Linked DNA regions of Homo sapiens. The protein of the gene in region 1 purifies or fractionates together with the protein of each later gene. This does not show direct contact. Each region holds a gene or a part of one and is shown in the gene's direction. Other genes may lie near its edges.

The links. The genes of interacting proteins can lie anywhere in the genome.
Region 2: the proteins of SLC6A20 (region 1) and TEX2 purify together in Homo sapiens (affinity purification with mass spectrometry; 2 studies listed by BioGRID and IntAct, with this or other methods). This does not show direct contact.

What each region holds. Positions count from the first base shown.
Region 1 is NC_000003.12:45,753,627-45,758,536, reverse strand, and holds the end of SLC6A20 (sodium- and chloride-dependent transporter XTRP3), read left to right. Parts: 3' UTR 1-85; coding exon of another isoform or gene 86-100; 3' UTR 101-3,088; downstream 3,089-4,910. UniProt on the Homo sapiens protein: Mediates the Na(+)- and Cl(-)-dependent uptake of imino acids such as L-proline, N-methyl-L-proline and pipecolate as well as N-methylated amino acids.
Region 2 is NC_000017.11:64,259,833-64,269,039, reverse strand, and holds the start of TEX2 (testis-expressed protein 2), read left to right. Parts: upstream 1-5,779; 5' UTR 5,780-5,872; exon of another isoform or gene 5,873-6,313; intron 6,314-9,207. UniProt on the Homo sapiens protein: During endoplasmic reticulum (ER) stress or when cellular ceramide levels increase, may induce contacts between the ER and medial-Golgi complex to facilitate non-vesicular transport of ceramides from the ER to the Golgi complex where they are converted to complex sphingolipids, preventing toxic ceramide accumulation.

The sequences.
Region 1 (4,910 bases):
CAGTGGTGCAAAATTAATTCTCTTCTTTTTTGAGTTGTAGTGAATATGCAATTTCTGTGTTCCCCTTCCACCCTTTAAATCTTAGGATGACAAGTTATAAAGAAAGAAGATCTTTGTCTGGGACCCCCAAAGGGATCCTTTCTCTAAGGTCTCTGACGGTGGGTCCAGGACCAGACCTCTCTACAAAAAATTGCCCCAACTACAGTTTGCAACCCCAAACCACATTAGAAGTCTGTGCAGACATCCCTCCGTGGTGTGTGTCTTGGTGCATTGGAAAAGGAGTCAGGAGCCACTGTGAGGTGAGAATGAAAGTGGATCTCAGCTGGGCACGGTGGCTCACGCCTGTAATCCTAGCACCTTGGGGGTCAAGGTGGGTGGATCACTTGAGGTCAGGAGTTTGAGGCCAGCCTGGCCAACATGGCGAAACCCCATTTCTACTAAAAATACAAAAAAATTAGCTGGGAGTGGTGGCATAGGCCTGTAATTCCAGCTACTCTGGCTGCTGAGGCACAAGAATCATTTGAACCTAGGAGGTGGCGGTTGCTGTGAGCCAAGATCATGCCACTCCACTCCAGTCTGGGCGACAGAGCAAGACTCTGACTCAAAAAAAAAAAAAAAAAAAAGTGGCTCTGACTTTCCCATAGGCTTAATATTACATTTGGACATCGTGGCCAACTCTATCAAGACCACAAATACCACTTACAATTAATTTTAAATTATTCATCTGTACATAGTTTTCTAAAATGTATATAATTCAAACAGAGCATCTTGTAACTGAAGACACACCATATCTATGATATCGCATTAGTCCATGTGGGGAAAAGAAAGATCAGATTGTTACTGTGTCTGTGTAGAAAAGGAAGACATAAGAAACTCCATTTTGATCTGTACTAAGAAAAATTGTTTCTGCTTTGAGATGTTGTTAGCCTATAACTTTAGCCCCAACTCTGTGCTCACAGAAACATGCGCTGTAATGAATCAAAGTTTAATGGATTTAGGGCTGTGCAGGATGTGCCTTGTTAACAATATGTTTGCAGGCTGTATGCTTGGTAGAAGTCATCGCCATTCTCCATTCTCGATTAACCAGGGACACAATGCACAGCAGAAAGCTGCAGGGACCTCTGCCCAAGAAAGCCTGGGTATTGTCCAAGGTTTCCCCCCCACTGAGACAGCCTGAGATATGGCCTCATGGGAAGGGAAAGACCTGACTGTCCCCCAGCCCGACACCTGTAAAGGGTCGGTGCTGAGGAGGAATAGTGAAGGAGGGAGGCCTCTTTGCAGTTGAGATAAGAGGAAGGCTTCTGTCTCCTGCTTGTCCCTGGTAATGGAATGTCTCGGTGTAAAAAGCTGACCATTCCCATTCGTTCTATTCTGAGATAGGAGAAAACCGCCCTGTGGCTGGAGGTGAGATATGCTGGCAGCAATACTGCTCTGTTACTCCTTGCTACACTGAGATGTTTGGGTAAAGAGAAACATAAATCTAGCCTACGTGCACATCTGGGCACAGTACCTTTCCTTGAACTTATTCGTGATACAGATTCCTTTGCTCACATGTTTCCCTGCTGACCTTCTTCCCACCTGTTGCCCTGCTACACTCCCCTCGCTAAGACAGTAAAAATAATGATCAATAAATACTGAGGGAACTCAGAGGCCAGCGCCGGTGCGGGTCCTCCACATGCTGAGCGCCGGTCCTGGGCCCACTGTTCTTTCTCTATACTTTGTCTCTGTGTCTTATTTCTTTTCTCAAAAAAATTTTTCTTTTTTTAACTGCAATAAAGTAGGTCGTTACCCCTAAAGTGAGCGAGTCCCTTCCTGCTCTAACGTCCAGTGCTTCCTTGAGATCATGGAATTCTGGAGAGTTTCTGTGGATATATTTGCACAGATATCTTTGAAGACACAAACACTCACCTGGGACGTTGGCCGGAGATGTCTTTTTATTTTTGTGCTGTAAAATTCTCTTACAGCAAAAATAGGCTTTAGAAAGGTCTTCTACTGTCTTCAGCAACCATCTCATCTTCCAGCTTCACCTGATTGTCCAGTTATCATACATTTGACTTTCAAATGTATGAACCAGCATGTACCCCATGGATTTAATCTTATCTACCCCGTGGATTCAATCTTCTTATCAGAAGGTTCTTTTATGTCAAAAAACCTGCTGTCAAGGCTTGAAGAGCCGGCACACTCAATGGCAAACACAGCACCGAGTCTGCTCTGAATCCTGGAGGATCTGGCCCTCCTCTCAATCCCCACTCACAGTCACCGTCTTACAACTCAGGGCCACCTGGGATCAGTCATCAGTCAGGGTGCGTAAGCCTTGAATACCAGGTAGCCTCAGGAGTGAAAAGATAAATGTCCTAGATCATTACCTTATTCAGTGTCCCCACCTTGCAGCGCATTCCAACCACCTGGGAGCATTTAAAACTCCAGATGCCCACACCACACCCTGGGGCCACCCATCAGACCTTCTGGAAGCAAGACCTGGGCCTCCATGGCCCCAAAAACTCCCTAGGTGATCCGATGTGCAGCCAAATCTGAGAGGCCCCATTTAAAAAAGAAAGAACATGGGTGGTACATTGAGGAGTATTTACATTTTATAAAATGACTTAAAAATTTGAAGGCATTTTTGAGCATTTCCAATTATATGGAAGAGTTACTTCTACGGAATAGTTTTTGCTCATGGAACTCAAACAGATGAAGCACCACTGTTACAGAATAATGTGCTCCAGATGAAAATGTCTCGTTTCTGTGAATTTCATGAAGAGCAGAACATTTCTCAAGAATCCTCTTGAGCCAGTAATCAATCCTGTCTCAAAAAATGTTCTTTGCCATTTCCTAGATACTGCACAAAAGTGGCCATGTCGACATTTGTCCACCCACCCTCCAATAAGCTGGAGCGACAAAGGGACATTCCATCCCTGTACCCTTAGTGGTAGCCATGACACGATGGCCAGATCATGGACTCCGGAAAGCTTTCTGTTTTTACTGGAAACATAGCAAACCTTGATTTAGCTCCAAGAAATTGAGTAGGGAAATATTTGTTTTTTAGCAATTGTCATAGTAAATAAAACTCTAAGCAAGTGTATCTACAGTTTTTGGTTTTGGGTTTTGCTTTTGTCACTTACTGGATACAGTTTAAGACTTCTCTCAACACAAGATTTTCTCTCATGTAGAAACACAAGCTAATTTTGAAAAAATGGAAAATAAGTGGGGGGGACAAATCCATCCAACCTTTTTTTCTGTCACCCTTTTCTGCGTTTACCTCTTCATATAACCCGTGAGACCGCACCAATGCAGTGGATGAAGTCTATCATGGGAAGATGAGAGATAGATAGAGTCCACAAGAAAAGTTAGAAAAAAAATTTCTAATTGGCCGGATTTAAAACAGAATGTGAGCCCCTTGGAATTGCTGCAGAATCTTGCCACTCCTTTTGAGAGTGTCCCGGGCAGTCTTGCCCATCTCAGCGTCTCTTTTTGGCCAGGGCCATGCAGAACCACATTAGGTTTGAATGTGACCTCAGAGCCTCACCTCAGAGGGGGGAGTGTGTAAACTATTGTATTTGATTTTTGTATGAGTTACTTTACATGGAAAAATTAACTTATGCCACCTTATAGGTAGAAAAGCTGGGGTAGAGAATTAACTAAGCCGATTTTCTGCCCTACATCAGTCAGGGGAAGAAAAAAATAACAGATTTACACATCCCTTTGCAAGGCAAAAATTGCATCTACAAATAGCAAATTCTTAACCTGAATTTCCTGACCAGTCTCTTACATGTGGATCACTTTTCTATTATTCACCCTCCTGTAGGGTGGGTGGATCAGCCTTTTTTGAGATTACCCAACTAGTATATTACAAACCAGTCCCTTGGTATGCGCCGGGGGCAATGGTGAACAGGATAGACACAGTCGCTGGCCTTTATGGCACTTACATTCTGGAAAAGGAGACAGACAATGATGCATAACAAATAAATCATATGATTACAGACTGTGATCATGTCTAAGAAGGAAATAAATGGCCCGATGTGGTGGCGTTAACAGGACAGTACTTTAAGCGGTTGAGGAACTTCGTGAACTGAAATTTGAAGAAGAAGGAACGAGTCATTAAAATTCCTAGAAGGCCTGTCCAGGAGAGGTGACAGCAACTGCAAAGGCCCTGAGGAGGGAAAGAGCAGAGAGGAGGCCTGTGGTTGGAATGGGAAAGTGAGCGATGGGAAGTGAGCTTGGAGGAGGGAGCAGGGGCCAGATCACATAAGGCCTCACAGGCCACAGCAAGGAGCTTCATTTTCGTTGAAGAGAAAGAGAGTGCCACTGAGGGTTCACTGTGGGGTCTGGCAAGATCTGATTTATGTTTGAAAGATCACTGTTGCCATAGAGGATGGATGGGAGCGGGGCATAAAGGGAGGCTGGAAAATCACTCCAGAATCTACTGTAGTAAAGCCATGGAAGATGATGGCAGCATGGACGTGGGAATGGATATGGAGAAAAATAGGCAAGCTTGAGTTATACTTTGGAGGGAAAGTTGCCAAGTCTTGCTGATGGGTTGGATTCCCAGCTGAGGGAAAGGGGGATAAAGAGCTTTACCTGCTGGGGGGATGCTGGTGCCATTTCCGGAGATGAGGAAAGTGGGGAACAGAGCTGGCCTGCAGAGTAAAAATCAAGAGTGGTTTGACCATGTGAAGTTTGAGATGTCTGTGAATTAGGTGGAAATATCCAGTAACCTGTTGAACACAAGAATCTGGAGGTTGGGTTACGTCTGGGCTAGAGATATACATTTGGGAGTTACAGTGGAGAGATGCTATTTAAAGCCACAGGTCTAAATGAGGTCATCCAGGGTGAGTATACACAAAGAAGAGGGCCTGCGACCAAGGCCTACAGGAACTCCAATGTGTTTTCGGACATGGCCACATGTGATT
Region 2 (9,207 bases), on another chromosome or scaffold:
CGGGCCTTGGAATGACAGAGCTTGAGCCATTTATATTTAATAACCTCAGGCCTCACATGCTAATTGGCAAAGTAAATAATGGGCATCACCACTGTCTGCTGCCCCATTATGGCAGGGAATTATTCTCGTGAGTGCATCCACCACTTGAGGCATCTCTAAAGCCCCTGATGATGTCCCTCAAGGAGCCCTTCCCACAAATGCTTGTATCTCGAAGGTGGTGGGAGTCCTGATTATAAACAGGTTTTCATTTTAGAAGGAAAACCAGTCACGAATGAGGCTCTCCCCCTGCCCCCCATCTTGGAGAGCCGTCCCAGTGCTGGTGCAGAGTGAAAAGAAAGTGTTGGAGGCTTGCCCAGTCCTCAGACTGATTATTTCCCATAAAGGATCCAGGGGAAGAGAAAACCCAGGAGTTGAGCATCTTTAGAAACTCCAGTTCTGTGGCTGCACCTGACCTTGTCATCACTCGGAATGGTTCACCAATGAACGAAGTCGGCTTCCTCTCACCTTTCCTGCCACCACATATTTCCTCCCGTCTATCCCCTCTCCCTTGGATTTCCTATCCCGCATGGAACCCATGACCTATCACTTCAACCACCCTGTTGTCAGTGTCCCCAACTGTTTAGTGTTTCTCCTGTCTGTCCATCCCTAACCCTGGATTCTCCATACCTGGCTTCTGTGGCCAAGCCCCAGAGAGCCATCCATCCAACTCCACAGACCTGGTGCCACCACAAACGCATGGGTCTCCCAGAATCCTCCCTCTCCATCGGGCAGTTCCCACTTTCATTCCTCTTGGTGGCTTTCCAAACCCTCATGGTTCCCCTCAAAGCCCTTCATCATCCCCTCCCCACCCACTCTCGAGAGATGACTTTGCTTCCTACCCTGGCCCAGGGCTACTCTCTTGTCCCCTTGGGACTCCTTGGACCCTATCCCATCAGTCCTCCACTGCACAGTCTCTTCATTCTTCTTCTTCTTCTTCTTCTTTTTTTTTTTGAGATGGAGTCTCACTCTGTTGCCCAGGCTGGAGTGCAGTGGTATGATCTCAGCTCACTGCAATCTCCATCTCCCGGGTTCAAGCGATTCTCCTGCTTCAGCCTCCCGAGTAGCTGGGATTACAGGCATGCACCACCACGTCTGGCTAATTTTTGTATTTTTAGTAGAGACAGGGTTTTACCATGTCGGCCAGGCTGGTCTCTAACTCCTGACCTCAAGTGATCCACCCACCTCGGCCTCCCAAAGTGTTGGGGTTACAGGCGTGAGCCACTGCACCTGGCCGATTCTTCTTTTTTCTTAGCTCTTCTCCTCAGCCCAGCTCTAGGGAGCCTCTACATTTCCAGCCACATCTATGCTGCATGTGTCAATGACCCTAATCTTCTAATTTCGAAATCCCAGAGCATACTTTCAGGCCTCTTCTAATTTGACCATTCTGTGGCATCTGTTGCTGTTGACTGCTCTCTCTTTCAATCTCTTCTCCCTTGGGTTTGGTGACTCTTACTTGGGTTTTTGTAAACTTTCTGGCTTCTCTTCATAATGAACTTCATCTGGCCACCCCTAAAAACATTATTGGGTTCCCCAAGGGTTCTAAGTGCCTATTCTGTGTCCCCACGGCTCCTGGGCTTCCCTCTAAGGAAGCCTATAATGGTCTATCAACGTGTCAGTTTCTCTACTAGATCTAGCATCTACAAGTGCCTTCATCTCTATCCCCAGTACTCAGCCCGCCACCTGGTACTGAGTGCACAGTGATTGCTCATTAATGGTGTGGCTTGTGGCATGATGATCCCTAATCTTTGTTAGATATACAAGTGGATCAACTTTTTGGTTTTCTGTACTTCTTAACCATTTCTGTCTCCAAGAATGCAATGTCAAAAACAGAATTAAAAATCTTAGGCTGGGCATACTGGCTCATGCCTAATCCCAGCACTTTGGGATACCGAGGCAGGAGGATCATTTGAGCCCAAGGGTTCATGACCAGCCTGGGACAACACAGCAAGACCTCATCTCTACAAAAAGTAGAAAGAAATTAGCCAGGCATGGTGGCGCATGCCTGTAGTCCCAGCTACTCAGGAGGCTGAGGTGGGAGGATCACTGGAACCCAGGAGGTCAAGGCTGCAGTGAGCCATGAGTGTGCCAGTGCACTCTAGCCTGGGTGACGGAGAAAGACCCTGTTTCAAAACAAAAAATAAAATCTTAGAGCATTTTTTGGTTTGTTTAGAAATTGGTGAGAAAATAGGGATTATCTTGAAATGCAATAATTGGGAATCTTTCAAGTATATCAGAACCTATGTGGGCTTAACCTGATAGTTGAAACCTGGGTTTCAAGAGAGCCTGGCATGAGGGTTGAGGGGTTGGGGGTAGAGAAAGAGGGGAGAGTATTAGCTTGGGCTTGCATTTCTGTGACTTAAGATCCTACTCTAGGTGAAAAAATTTAGATCACTTGGTACATGCTATACATATAGAGTAGCTATCTGGGGGACAAAGTAAGGAATCTTGCTTGATATCTGAATTTAGCCTCACAATCCCTAACCTTTTTCAGAGGTACTACAATGAGTCACAGATGCCAAGCTCTAAAATCACTCTTTTAAGCATGATTTGAGCCAGGCACAGTGGCTCACGCCTGTAATCTCAGCAGTTTGGGAGAGGTTGAGGCAAGAGGATCGCTTGCACCCAGGAGTTTGAGACCAGCCCTGGCAACATGGCAAGACCCCATCTCAAAAAAGCCTGGTGGTTACGGTCATGAATGCTGGCTCTTCCTTCAACTAGCCCTGCTATCCTGGACACATCACTAATCTGTGAACTTCAGTTTCTGCATCCATAAAAAGGAGAAAATAATGGTCATATCTACCCTAAAGAGTTACTGTAAGGTTTCAGTGAACTGCTATGTTCCAGGGACTTGGCATAGTACCTGGCACATAGTAACCTCTTAATAGGTAGGAAACAGGCCAGGCGCAGTGGCTCACACCTGTAATCCCAGGACTTTGGGAGGCCGAGGCTGAGGTGGGCAGATCACCTGAGCTCAAGAGTTCAAGACCAGCCTGGCCAACATGGTGAAACCTTGTATCTACTAAAAATAAAAATAAAAAAAATTAGCCAGGTGTGGTGGCGTGTGCCTGTAGTCCCAGCTACTCAGGGAGGCTGAGGCAGGAGAATTGCTTGAAACCAGGAGTTTGAGACCAGCCTGGACAACATGGTCTCAAACTCTTGGGCTCTCCTCCTGAGCGGGGGTTGCAGTGAGCCAAGGTCACGCCACTGCACTCCCGCCTGGGCAACATGACAGAGGCTGACTCCATCTCAAAAAAAAAAAAAAAAAAAAAGGTAGGAAACATTATTGTGTTATGATATGTTCATTTATTTTTCAATGCATCCAAATTCCTCAGATTTCAAAAAGAAGGGATCCTTCTAAGTGTTCATGCTGGATCTTACTGGCTTCTAGTTTGAGATCTGGTTGGTAGTGTATTAATTAATTTAATGCTTACGTGGAGCTTGGTAGGGAAAGGAGGTTGGTGGGCACTCTGAGAGGCACATTGCCAGCTTCCAAGGACCTTTGCAAGGGGCAGCTCCAGGGCCCCTACCCTTTCTCTCTCTCTCTCCCTGAGGCAGGGGGCTGAAGATGTGGCCAAGGAGAGCTTCAGGCTGTGTCTCCATTGGTAACTGCCTTTGTTGCACATTTCCAGAAAACCACAACTGGAAACCTCTTCTGTTGGGACATGAATTCTTTTTCCTTTGGGAAGGGCAACAGAAGCAAGTGGTGATCCCAGGCAGTAATGCCTGCAGCCCAGAGACTGCATTCTCATGAGGCTGATCAATCCTTGTGCAGAGTTGTCCCTGGCAACACAACATCCATCAGAAATCACAGCACAAACAGGGTTATTGTGTGGAGGCCATTCCAAGAGCCTGAGATCTGTGTGGGAGGCAGCTGACCTGCAAGATCTAGTGGGCGAGGGCTGACCTCCAAGTCTGAGGACAATGACTTCTGGGTCAGGCAGGTGTCTGGGATACTAGGAAGGGGAGAGGAATGTTGCCAGGAGGGTAGGCAGGGCTTGCTGGCATTGGAATGAGGCACCAGAGTAGCAGGGCATTCTTCTGGGATCATGACTGGGCCTGGTGGTGAGCCGGAGTGTGTCTGCCATTAAGATATTTATGCACTGTCTCACGGGTCAGAGAACTAGCCTGGCTTCCCTCTGCTTGAGGCATCAAATCTTCTTCCTGCTTGAGGATTTCAATCTTTCAGATGTTGTTTCATCTGGGTCCAGTGCCCTTCTACACTCAGTTCTTGGCATGACTTATTCTGTTATGAGTGTCTTAGTAGGTGACCTCCTCCCTTACTAGCAAGTCTCCCAACCATATTACTAATTCTGAGGATGAAAGGAGTTTGGCTTTCATTTTGCCAATTGAATTTGAATTTCATGACTATGATAGACTCAAAACACGCACCTGAGTGTGGTCCTTGTACCACTTGCATTAGAATCACCTGGAGGGAGGGGTGTCGAAGGCCATCTCAGACTTACTGAATTACAGGTTCTGGGGTGGGACTTAGAGATCTTCATGTTAAAACCCTCCAGGATGATCTGACGTTGAAGATCTGACATTTGGGACCCACTAATGCAGGAGACACACTGACACATCTGTTTGTTGTCTTGGTCCTTTCTTGTGGTGGGTGGGAAGTGCAGAGGGGCAAGGACTACGGGGGAAGGGGGAACTCTCCCTATGTGCCAGTGCTTCTGCCAGCCAACCCAGGTTCGCAGAAGATAAATGCACAATGGGCATTGCCATCCCAGGAAGCTCATTCTAAGTGAGAATTTACCTCGAGAAGTCACTTTACCTCTCTGAGCCTCAGATATTGCCTCTCTAAAAATGAGTAGTTAATACTATATAAGTTCTAAGCTCTAAGAACTCGTGGCCAGGCGCGGTGGCTCACGCCTGTAATCCCAGTACTTTGGGAGGCTGGGTCCGGCGGATCACGAGGTCAAGAGACCGAGACCATCCTGGCCAACATGGTGAAACCCCGTCTCTACTAAAAATACAAAAATTAGCTGGGCATGGTGGCACGCGCCTGTAATCCCAGCTACTCGGAAGGCTGAGGCAGGAGAATCGCTTTAACCCAGGAGGCGGAGGTTGCAGTGAGCCCAGATGACGGCACTGCACTCCAGCCTGGCGACAGAGCGAGACTCCGTCTCAAACAAAAAAACTAGTAACAGAGTTAGTTCAGGATAGGATGTGGTAGTGTGGTAGTCAGGTGGGGGAAGTACATAATGCGGGAAACTGGGAATTTGCCTTTTTAAATCAATGTCTGCAGTTGGATGGGGATAGATACGTCTGATGGCCCTCTAAAATGCAAATCGAGTGAATTTGCCCAGGGGGATACCCCTGGTTCTCCGCGCCTCAGTCACCCCACCTCAACCCCCAGCCCTCGTCTCAAGGGCACTTGTTGCTGCTAGACTGCAGGAAGAGGAAATTAAGAAGTGCAAAGAGCTGGGGACAGTGTGCAGCCCCGTTGGGAGAGTGAAGCTTTTGTCCCCCTCACCTGGGGCTCTTCCAGGTAACCCTCCCCACCACTCCTCTCCCTAGCTCCAAGGGCGGTGGCCCCTTTAACAGACCTGACAAATCGCTCCCCCATTTCCGCGGCCTCACCTCGGCGCGCGGTAGAACTGGATTGGTTGGGCCTGGCGTGCCGTTTGCTCCGCCCCCGCGCCCTCTGGTTGGCGGCGGCGGCCGCGGGCGCGGGGCGGGTCCGCCGGCGGGGCGGGGCGGCGTGTGCCCGGGGGCGGGCGGGCGGCAGGGCAGCAGGACCGCGGCCGGTGCCCCAGCCGAAGCCGGAGTCGCGCGGCCGGGAGCACGGGCGCCGGCATAGTACAATGAGGCAGCCAGCGGATCTTGGGTGAGCAGTCTCAGGGCCAGGCGGGGGCGGTGGAGGGAGCGCCCCGCGGATAAGGCCCGGGCTGGGCGCGGATCGACCCCGCGGGCTTCAAAGTACCGGTCGGGTCCGGCGGCCCTTGGCGTGGCGGGGCTCGGCCCCCCACCCCGCTGTCATGGTTCAGGTATTGAAGGGGACGCCCACCCGCGACACCCCCGGGCAATCCCTTCCTTCGGGGCCCCGCCGGATGGCTCGGGCTCGACTCCGGCGGGAGGAGCTGCCGGCCCCGTCCCCTCAGCCTGCGGTCCCCGGCCCCGGGCAGGGAGGCACCGTCACGCGCAAACTAGAGGAAAACGGCTTGCAATTTTATGAATGGGGCCCCGGGTTCCTGCCGCCCCCCTCACCGGCGACGCGAAATGCTTGAAAGTCGAGAACCGCAGTTACTTTTACTCGAATCTGTCAGAGGTTGTATGCGCCCCGGTGGTTTTTCTCCAACTCCTGGAGAACGCGGGTGGCGGTGGGGTGGTTTGTGTGCTTTAGCAGGGAGGCGGCGGCGTGCCGAAATCCGGGGGATCGGAAGGTTAACAAGTGACATTGGGCTGAGGCCTAGCGCCAGGTGCCTTGCGGGGAGGCGGTGTGGCCGTGGACGCCGTCGCTGCTGGCTGCTGAGCACGGAAACCATACGGTGGAACCGGAGAAGGCGGGGAACGGCTGGCCACATTGCACCACACGCTGCCTAGAGCGTACGGCTGCCATGGGAGTTGGTGCAGGGGAGTCTTCCCCTTTTGAAAACGATTTTTGGAAAACTTAGCCCCTCAGTGGGTTGATAGTTACTTAAACCATCGGTTGTTATGGTTACTGGGCGTCAAATGTAAGGGCAAAGTCTGTTTCCACCCTCGCTCTTTCTCCAGAGCTATGAAGTACTTTGTCACTGTGTTTTACAGACACTGTCCAGGGAGGACATCCTTTTTTAGAGTTGAGGGAAAATTGTGGGCTCCTTGAGGGCAGGGCTCGTGCCACGTTCACGTTTGAAGTGCCAGCGTCTTCACACCATCACCGCTCTGCACATGCATTAAAAGGAATGAGGCTTTTACATGTTTTGAGGATTCTCAGAGGATTCAGAGGAGTCATTTCAGGAGCCAGGTGTAAGCTGGAGGGGAAACAACGAGTGACTTTTATATGGAAAACAATAAGGAAAAATGGAGGGCAGGTTATCCTTGAACTCTGGAGTATGGGGAGTTTGAGGAGTCTAGGTTTGTGAGTTTTAGGGCTGGGTCACACAGAGACGCTTGTCTCATATTGGAAGAATGAAACTGCCATTTCTGTTAGCTCTTACCTAGCCCATAAACAATATTCTTTCAGATTCTCCCCAAAAATGGTAGTTGGTCTAAAGTTATGGTAAACAAGCCCCCTGAGGTGATGTGGATAGAGTGGGATTTTGCCATATCATTTCTTTCTTTTTTTTCTGGGCCCCTTTGGGAGTGTGAAGGCTTGGAGGGAGAGGATGTGGAGGGCTCTGGGTGAACTGAACTTGCTTGCATGTTTATCTCCAGTAAAAGGCACTGTGCCTGAGAGGAAGGAGATTAACAAATTGATTCAGATCAGAAGATGGTGGTAATTGAGTCTACTGACAAGCAACCGAGGGGCTGGGACAGACGAGGAGGGAGGAAAAATTCAGGAGTTTGGTTTGGGCTGATTGTTGGAGGTCTGAAGAGCAAGTTATGTCATCGTGAGAGAAGATTAGACACAGCATATACCAAACATAATGTTCATTATTAGAGGTTATGTTAGAATGCTTCTGGAGAAGAAGCAGGAAAGATTAGGCTTTTCGATAGAATAAATACGTAGCATGTTTTGGACAAAAAGCAGTTGCCTGGAGTTAAAAAAGAAATTATTTATTAAAATAATAATAATTTTGCTGTATGCCAGAAACTGCTAGACATTATAGAAATGATGGAGGGTTTTTTTGTTTTTAAAGGATGAAGAGTTTGTTTCTATATGCCATATTAGTTGCCTTTCCTTCAAGTCAAATGCTTCTGTTTTCTGGAAGGTTTTCTGAATCCCTTGAGGAAAGAGAGGGGAGAACTGCACAGTTTATTACTTAATATGAGAACAGAGCAATGGGGAAATTCTCCTCACTGTAGATTACTTTCAGTATCAAAGTGAATCTTCAAAGACCAGTTTTCTGTGTCAGGTTCAATATAAAATTATATTAATCCTCACGTCTGTTGACTGGTATCTTTTGATGGAAAGTGCCTGTTCTTTCTTTTTTTCCATTTGTCAATTCATTCATTCAGAGTTAGGAAGTTCATTAAACACACACTGTCTCTTGTTCTCTAGGTGTTTCTAGTTCATTTTCTTTGCCTGAATATCCCTCAGGGTCTGCTTTCTTCTGTCTGATCCTTATCTCCTGAAGGTCTCCTTGGGAATTGCTGAGGTCACAGGGAATGCTTATTCTTTGATTCTGTCCCAAGGCAGAAGACTAGTATAGAAAAGAGAGCAGTGTTGAGTTCCAACTCAGCCAGGTACTGTTTTCTGCCCCTTATGTATATATCCTCTCCAGTCCTAGAGCAGCCCTCTAATGGAGGTGTGATAGCCTCATTTTACAGAAGAGGAAACCGAGGCTCAGAGCAAAGTAGTAACTTGCCCAAGGTGACAAGCTGGTTAGATGGTGGAGCAAGAATGTCAGTCTAGGACATTGATTCAAAAAACGTGCTTTTTGGGCCAGGCACAGTGGCTCACATCTTGTAATCCCAGTACCTTGGGAGGCCAAGGCAAGAGGTTTACTTGAGGCCAAGGGTTTGAGACCATCCTGGATGACAGAGTAAGACCCTGTGTCCAAGCAAACAAAACACACTTTTTCCATTGTACCACGTTGTTTTTCCCTGGAGAGAAATGGCAGTTTATTAGAGATGTCTCTTGCAGTGTCCTCTTGAGTGGACATGTTCAGAGTGGTCAGGTTCAGAGATGTTCAGAGAATTGCTGCACTAATGAGCTCCTGTGCTCCTGCTGGAGCCAGAGTTAGATGCCGATGTCTGTCTCTCTGCCAAGTGCAGTTTTGAGTAATTCACGAGGCTATTGGGAAATCTTTTACTGCCATGAAAAGGTGACTGGACTGACTGGGTCTGTATCCTTGTGCTCTGCTTACCAGCTCTGTGACCTTAAGGGTAAATTACTTCTCTTTCTGTGTACCTCAGTTTCTTTGTAAAGTGGGAAAATATTCCCATTTCAACAATGCTAAGACAGTGTAATTTATGTAATGTTAACATTCCTGGGGAAAAAAAGCATCTTGTAATGTATGGGGTCTTAGACTTGTAGTCAGCAGTGGCTTCCTTTTTTGGCACATAAAATAACAGTGT